Linked DNA regions of Homo sapiens. The gene in region 2 interacts genetically with the main gene of each other region. Each region holds a gene or a part of one and is shown on either strand. Other genes may lie near its edges.

Evidence for each region. A genetic interaction does not mean that the proteins touch.
Region 1: changes in CASP8 (region 2) and CHEK1 together harm fitness more than expected from each alone (negative genetic interaction), as found in Homo sapiens cells (one large-scale study listed by BioGRID).

Annotation. Positions count from the first base shown.
Region 1 is NC_000011.10:125,645,610-125,649,264, forward strand, and holds part of CHEK1 (serine/threonine-protein kinase Chk1), read left to right. Parts: intron 1-3,655. UniProt on the Homo sapiens protein: Serine/threonine-protein kinase which is required for checkpoint-mediated cell cycle arrest and activation of DNA repair in response to the presence of DNA damage or unreplicated DNA.
Region 2 is NC_000002.12:201,273,939-201,277,593, reverse strand, and holds part of CASP8 (caspase-8 isoform 2 precursor), read right to left. Parts: intron 2,706-3,655; coding exon 2,641-2,705; intron 2,072-2,640; exon of another isoform or gene 1,958-2,071; intron 768-1,957; coding exon 626-767; exon of another isoform or gene 52-625; intron 1-51. UniProt on the Homo sapiens protein: Thiol protease that plays a key role in programmed cell death by acting as a molecular switch for apoptosis, necroptosis and pyroptosis, and is required to prevent tissue damage during embryonic development and adulthood.

The DNA.
Region 1 (3,655 bases), on a different chromosome or scaffold from region 2:
TGTATCAGCGTCAGATTTCTTGGGTGTGATAATACTGTGGTTTGTAGGAGAATGCCCTTGTTCAAAGGAGAACAAGTGTCAAAGCAAAGTTGAAGTGAAGTGATATTTTCATTCAGCTTAAAATTTAAAAAAATAAAGGGCAAACAACTACATAAAGGCCAATAAACACACACATATCTGGTAGATAAGGCCAATGAAGAGTATATGGTTATTTATTATACTCTTTTTTCAGTTTTTCTGTAGATTCGAGTTTTCAAAATTAAAAATTGGGGGAACTGTTACTGTGTAGAAATCTGAGGTCAGCCTGATAGTCTTCTCACTCACATAGGTGATTCACTTTCTTTCAGGTAGACTCAGAGATAAAATTTGCATAACATAAGAATCATCACTTTAACCATTTTAAAATGTAAAATGCAGTGCTTTTTAGTATATTCACAAGGTTGTGCAACCATCGCCCCTAATTCCAGAACATTGCATCACCACGGGGAAAAAAAAACAAAACACCTCTGTACCACCTAGAATCACTCTTTATTCCTTTCTTGCTCCATTCCCAGACAACCTCGAATCTACTTTCTGTCTTTAGGGATTGCCTTTTTGGACATTTTATATAAATGGAATCATATAACATGTAGTCCTTTGGGTCTGTCTGCTTTCATTTAGCACGTTTTCAAGGTTCATAGCATCTATCAGTACTTTATTCCTTTTTATGGCTGAATAATATTCTGTTGTGTGTATGTATTACATTTCGTTTATCCATTCATCCACTCATGGACATTTGGGTTGTTTCTACTTTTTCATCATTATGAATAATACTGCTGTGAACAATCTTGTACCAGTTTTTGTGTGACCATATGTTTTCAATTTCTTAGATATATATGGAGGAATAGAATTGTTGGAGCATATGGTAACTCTTCATTTAACTTTTTGAGAAACTGTGAAATGATTTTTCCAAAGCACCTGTACCATTTTACGTTCCCATCAGTAATGTAAGAGGGTTCCAATTTCTCTACAACCTTGCCAACACTTACTGCCTCCCCTTTTTGCTATGGCCATCCTAGTGTGTATGAAGTCTTATCTCATTTTGCTTTTGATTTTCATCTCTCTAAAGACTAATGATCTTGAGCATATTCTTATATGCTTATTGGCCATTTCTTTATAACAGTATCCGGATATTTTGTCCATGCTTTAACTGGCTTGTTTTTATTGTTGAGTTGTTAGAGTTCTTTTACATTCTGGACACTAGAACCTTGTCAGGTACCTGATTTGCAAATATTTTATCCCATTCTGTGGGAGAAAATTCCCCCATTCTTTTGTTTTCTTGTTAGTGTCGTTTGATGTACTCAAGTTTTAGATTTTGATGAATTCCAGTGGATCTATAATTTCTCTTTTGTTGCCTATGCTTTTAGTGTCAAATTTAAGAAACTGTTGCCTGATGTAAGATTGTAAAGATTTATACTTTATGCTTTCTTTTAGGAGTCCCAGCCTCCTAAGTAGCGGGGACTACAGTCTTAAAGTTTAGCTCTTATATTTAGGTCTTTGTCCATTTTGAGTTAATATTTGTATATAGTATGATGTAGGGTGCAAATTCAAATGTTTGTATGTGAATATTCAGATTCCAGCACCATTTGTTGAAGATATGTTTTACTATTAGATGGTCTTGGCACCTTTGTTGAAAATAAATAGGTCATAGATGTATGGGTTTATTTCTGGAATCTCAATTCTTTTTTTTTCCTTTTTTTTTTCTTCCCCTGTGGACTCAATTCTTTTATTTCATGGATCTATATGTCTGTGCTATGCCGTTACCACACTATGTTGATTACTGTAGCTTTATAGTGAATTTTGACATTAGAAAATATGAGTTGTCCAAGTTTGTTCTTTTTTTCAAGGTATTTTGGTTATTTGTGGCCCCTTGTTTTTCTGTCTTTTAGGATTATCTTATTTCTGCAAGAAAAAAATTTGGAATTTTAAAAGAGATTACATTGGGGAGTATTTCCATTTTAGTATATATTGAGTATTCTTTATTCAAGGTGCTTGGGACCAAAAGTTTTGTGGATTTTACATTTGTTTGGATTTTGGAATATTTGCATATGCATATTGAGATAACTTACAGATGGGACTCAAGTTGAAACATGAATAATTTTATTTATGCTTCATATATACCTGATACAGATAGCCTGAAGGTAATTTTATACAATGTTTTAAATAATTTTGTGCATGAAACAAAGTTTGTACATTGAACTATCAGAAAGCAAACCTGTCAGGTATGAAATTTTCAGTTTGTCACATGATGTCAGCACCTGAAAAGTTTTGGAGTTTGGAACATTTTGGATTTCAGATTTGAGATTAAGGATGCTAAACCTCTAATAGTAACTCTTCTAATCCAATAACATGGGGCCTTTTTTTTCCCATTTTTTTAGGGTCTTTAATTTCTTTCAAGAATATTTTGTAGTTTTCAGTGTTCAAGTCTTGCACTTCCTAGGTTAAATGTAATCCTGTTTATTCTTTTTTTTTTTATCCTGATGCTGATGTAAATGGAATTTTTTAAAATTTTATTTTCAAATTGTTCATTGCTATATGCAAATGAATTTTGTATATTGATCTTGTATCCTGAAAATTTGCTGAATTCATTAACTCCAGTAGTTTTTTTGACAAATTCTTTAGGTTTTTTAATATATTAAGATTACATTATTTGGCAGGGCGTGGTGGCTCACGCCTGTAATCCCAGCACTTTGGGAGGCCGTTGCGGGTGGATCATGAGGTCAAGCGTTTGAGACCTGCCTGGCCCACATAGTGAAACCCCGTCTCTACTAAAAATACAAAAAATTAGCTGGGCGTGGTTGCGGGCACCGGTAATCCCAGCTACTCGGGAGGCTGAGGCCGGAGAATCACTTGAACCTGGGAGGCGGAGGTTGCAGTGAGCCGAGATGACGCCACTGCACTCCAGCCTGGGCGACAGATCAAGACTCCGTCTCAAAAAAAAAAAAATTACATTGTTTATCAATAGAGATACAGGAAATTGTTTTACTTTTTTTTTTTTTTTTAACCCAGATGCCTTTTAATTCTTTTTGTTTAGTTGTCCTGGCTAGGACTTCCAACATTATGTTGAACAGAAATAGAGTCTTTGTCTTGTTCTTGATCTTAGGGTTAAGTTTCGAGTCTTTCAGCATTAAGTATGATGTTAGCTGTGGGGTTTTTGTTTTTATGGTGAAAGAGTATTGGATTTTGTCAAATGTTTTCTCCGTCTATTGAGATAATCATGTGGATTTTTTTTCCCTTTATTAATATAGCTTGACCTCCTGTGCCCAAGTGATCCTCTCATCTCAGCCTCCTAAGTAGCTGGGACTACAGGTGTACACTATCATACCCAGCTAACTTTTTAAAAATGTTTTTGTAGAGATGCAGTCTCTGTGTTTACCAGGCTGGCCTTGACCTTCTGGGCTCAAGTGATCCTCCTGAGTAGTGGGTACTACAGGTGTGCACCACCATGCCCAGCTAAATTGACAGTTTTCATCAGTCTGTTTATTTTGTCTAATGTTAGTATATCCACATCAGCTCACCAGCTATCTTGTGTATTTTCCTTTTTTTAGATGGAGTCTCACTATGTTGCCTAGGCTAGACTGTAGTGGCTACTTAAAGGCACGATCATAGTGCAATG
Region 2 (3,655 bases):
AACACTATTTCCAAAAGTTCTTTGATCAAATCAAAATTATTAATCTCTCAATGGTGATGGATGATTTTTATTTTTTGTTGTTGTAGTCACTTTTTATATTCACATACTACAAATTGTTTTTTCATTTAACTTGTAAGTTCTTGATCTTAGCTTAATTTGGCTGAGCAAAAGAATTGCTAACCAGTTTAATATTTAATACTTGAAAATGCTATTTCTGTTAAGAACCCACAATTTCTGCTGCACTTAACAGCCCAACCTGTAAAAATGCAGCCTCTATAAGAACTTTGATACCACAGCAATTTCATCGCCTAATACATTCCACAGAAGCGCTATGCATTTAGCTGAATTCAAAACAAAGCTTATTACTGCTTTTCATTATGTCTTTTAGTAAGATTTGATATTTTATATTTATACATACATTACTTTTATTTAAAAAATTAATTTTTAAAAAAAGCAGGAAACTGATAAATGTATAAGAATGTTCTTTACCTCCACAGGGAAATATGTTTAAATCCATTTTCTTGAAACATGGCCCTTTTGGTATAGCTTTTGTTCTCTCCCTTTTGATTTAAAAAAAAATAGGCATAAGAAATATTTTACTTTTCTCTTTTGGGTTCTACTGTACCTGCATCCAAGTGTGTTCCATTCCTGTCCCTAATGCTGTGAAGTTTGGGCACTTTCTCCCGTGCTTTTGCAAAATTGTGATTGTTGATGATCAGACAGTATCCCCGAGGTTTGCTTTTCATTTGGTAAACTTTGTCCAAAGTCTGGAAAACAAAAACCCAACCCAGGAGCTGACTCTGTGGGTCAAACACTAGAGATGTAAACAAACAACTCCCTAGTAAGAGGACTTGCTTTCCATTGCACCACCCCAACTCGGGGTCGTTTCCTCGAAGAACTAGTTTCTACCTATTTCCTTCACACAGGACCTCTCAGACTTCTGCCCCATCGTTGTAAAGTCAGTGTCCCAATACCTGGGCCTCCTGAGCACTTTGCACATATATTAATATTGTTGTCATCACATTGTATTATTGTTTGTTCTCATTTCTGCTTCCCATACTATACAGAAGACTCCTTGAGGTTCATAACATCTGTGCCAGGGACTACGGTGTATTAACTTGTGAGAGCTCAATCAAGAGTCACTGAATGAATGAATGTCTTTGGCTGCCCCCACGCCATGACTTGTGATTCTCTTGGCTGTCTACTGAACTCATCTGTGCTTCGTGGCTAACAGCTGAGGGTCTCCCATTCATGCATTGCACAGTGTGGTCCCAGGATTTTAAAGGTGATGGCTTAACCCAGCTCTCAGGACCACGGTGGCTGCTGGGAAGAGATGGGCTGGTCAGGGAGGTCCTGGCTACACTGTAGGTTATGGTATCCAAACTGTAGTACCTGATAGTACTGGCCAGGGATGGCGCTGTGTCCTATTCATTCTCCTAGGGCTGTTTCAGTACCGAGAAACTCAGCATTTAGTTGGAGGTCTGCGTAGCCCCTTGAGGTGGAGAAAAGGACTCCAGGCTAGGAAGCCCAATTCCTGCCTCTACTTCACCTTATGACTTTGGGCAAATAACCTGTTATCTTAATATGTTAACTCTAAGATATTAAATATTTGATTAAGTTTGTACCAAGTATGTTAAGTTTTTATTATTTACAGTTGTGTTCTAAGTATTTATTAAGCATATTAAGTGTATTTACTGAGATACTAAGACACTAAGATTTGGCCAGGCACGGTGGCTAGTACCTATAATCCCAGACTTTGGGAGGCCAAGGCAGGAGGATTGCTTGAGGCCAGGAGTTCGAGACCTGGCTTGGCAACGTAGCAAGACCCCTGTCTCAATAAAACATTAAAAAAGGAAAAAGATACTAAGATTTACTAAGATATTAAGACAGTGTTTTTAGCTCTTCAGTGGGGACAATGCTTGTAGCATGCTATACTGTTTAGAAAGTACCACATTACTTGGGTTAATCCTTGACTTTCAGATGAAAGAGGTCTGGTAATTTTCTCAGGAGCCCACACTAGTGAATAATCTCTCTCAAGCCTACTTCAGATATTCAGGATTTCCTCTTCTTCCTACCATGAGGAGGAGCAGATCGTCTAATAAGTCAGGATGTATTTGGTGGATTGTTGATTACATAAAGAGAAGTTATTATGCCTAAAAATTACATGTTTCTGCTGGTTCACTGAGACAAAAACACAGAGATGGCTAGATTGTGAGAGTTTGCTGCTTACACCTCATCACCAAGGAGAAGCATTTTTGAAACATTAAGCTAAAGGAAAAGGCTTGGCTTTTTCCATTCCTGCTAGACTCTTTCTCCAAACCACTCCCCCATCCAGGCTGGCACGGCTGCTAGAAGATTTGGTAGGAGGCTTATTACCCCCTCCACCCTCCAACTATTCCAGTATCTTCATCTCGGGTCTTAAAATAAAATTCAAATGTATAGAAAACTGAAGGAGTCACATTTTAAAAATTAAGTCACATTTTTAACTTTTTTTGTGTGAATTTTTTCTACAGTTCTCAAAATTTTCAGTAAGTTTCTGCCCCTTGTCAGTTTATCTGGCAGCAAAAAAAAAAAAAAGCTAACAAATTAAATAACTAGAATCTGTAATGTAAAAAAAAGGATTTGGAGGTTTCCGTCTACCTGTGATTCACTATCCTGTTCTCTTGGAGAGTCCGAGATTGTCATTACCCCACACAACTCCTCCCCTGCAAACAACGAAGAGACACATCTAGAATGAGACATGGCAGGAAAGGTACACTGGTAATGAAATATGTAGCACATAGGACAACATAAGGTCTTTTTTAAGATGAAAATTCAAGCTGGGAACAGGGGCTCACGCCGGTAATCCCAGCACTTTGGGAGGCCAAGATGGGCAGATCACTTGAGGTCAGGAGTTCAAGACCAGCCTGGCCAACATGGTGAAACCCTGTCTCTACTAAAAGTACAAAAAAATTAGCCGGGCGTGGTGGTAGCCACCTGTAGTCCCAGCTACTCAGGAGGCTGAGGCAGGAGAATCACTTGAACTTGGGAGGTAGTGGTTGCAGTGAGCTGAGATCGCACTACTGCACTCCAGCCTGGGCAACAGAGTGAGACTCTGTCTCAAATAAATAAATGAAATAAAATGAAAATTCACAGACTGCCATGAATATAATCTCCTTTCAAGCCAGAGAGATTCTGCAAGCAGGGCAATTAACATGCTTCTGGAAACACAAGATCAAGTTGTCTCCTCGCCAAAGAGAAAAACATACCAAGAAATGCCATAATTTTATATTGCTCCACATGGCCAGGTTGAATTTTTGTGGTATTTGTGAGATACTCATTAATAAAGCCACTAGCTCAGGATGAATTAATGATTTAGTACTTTACTCCTTAAAGTATTCTTAAGGCCTTAGGCTCAGCAGGCAGAGGGGAAAGGGAAGGACAGCCTGCATAGACATTAATCTTTAAAATACATTTGAGTGATCCAAAATGTATTTTACACACACACACCACAAAGAGCCAACGTAAAAATACAATAAAAATATTCATAATATGAATGGAGTGATGGTGTTCTTGGACTTGTAAAAATTTCTCTGAATTTAAAATAATCTTCAATTAGTGTATATAATTTTTCTAATCAGAAAGAATACTTTATTAATTGCCTATAGTCCCAGCA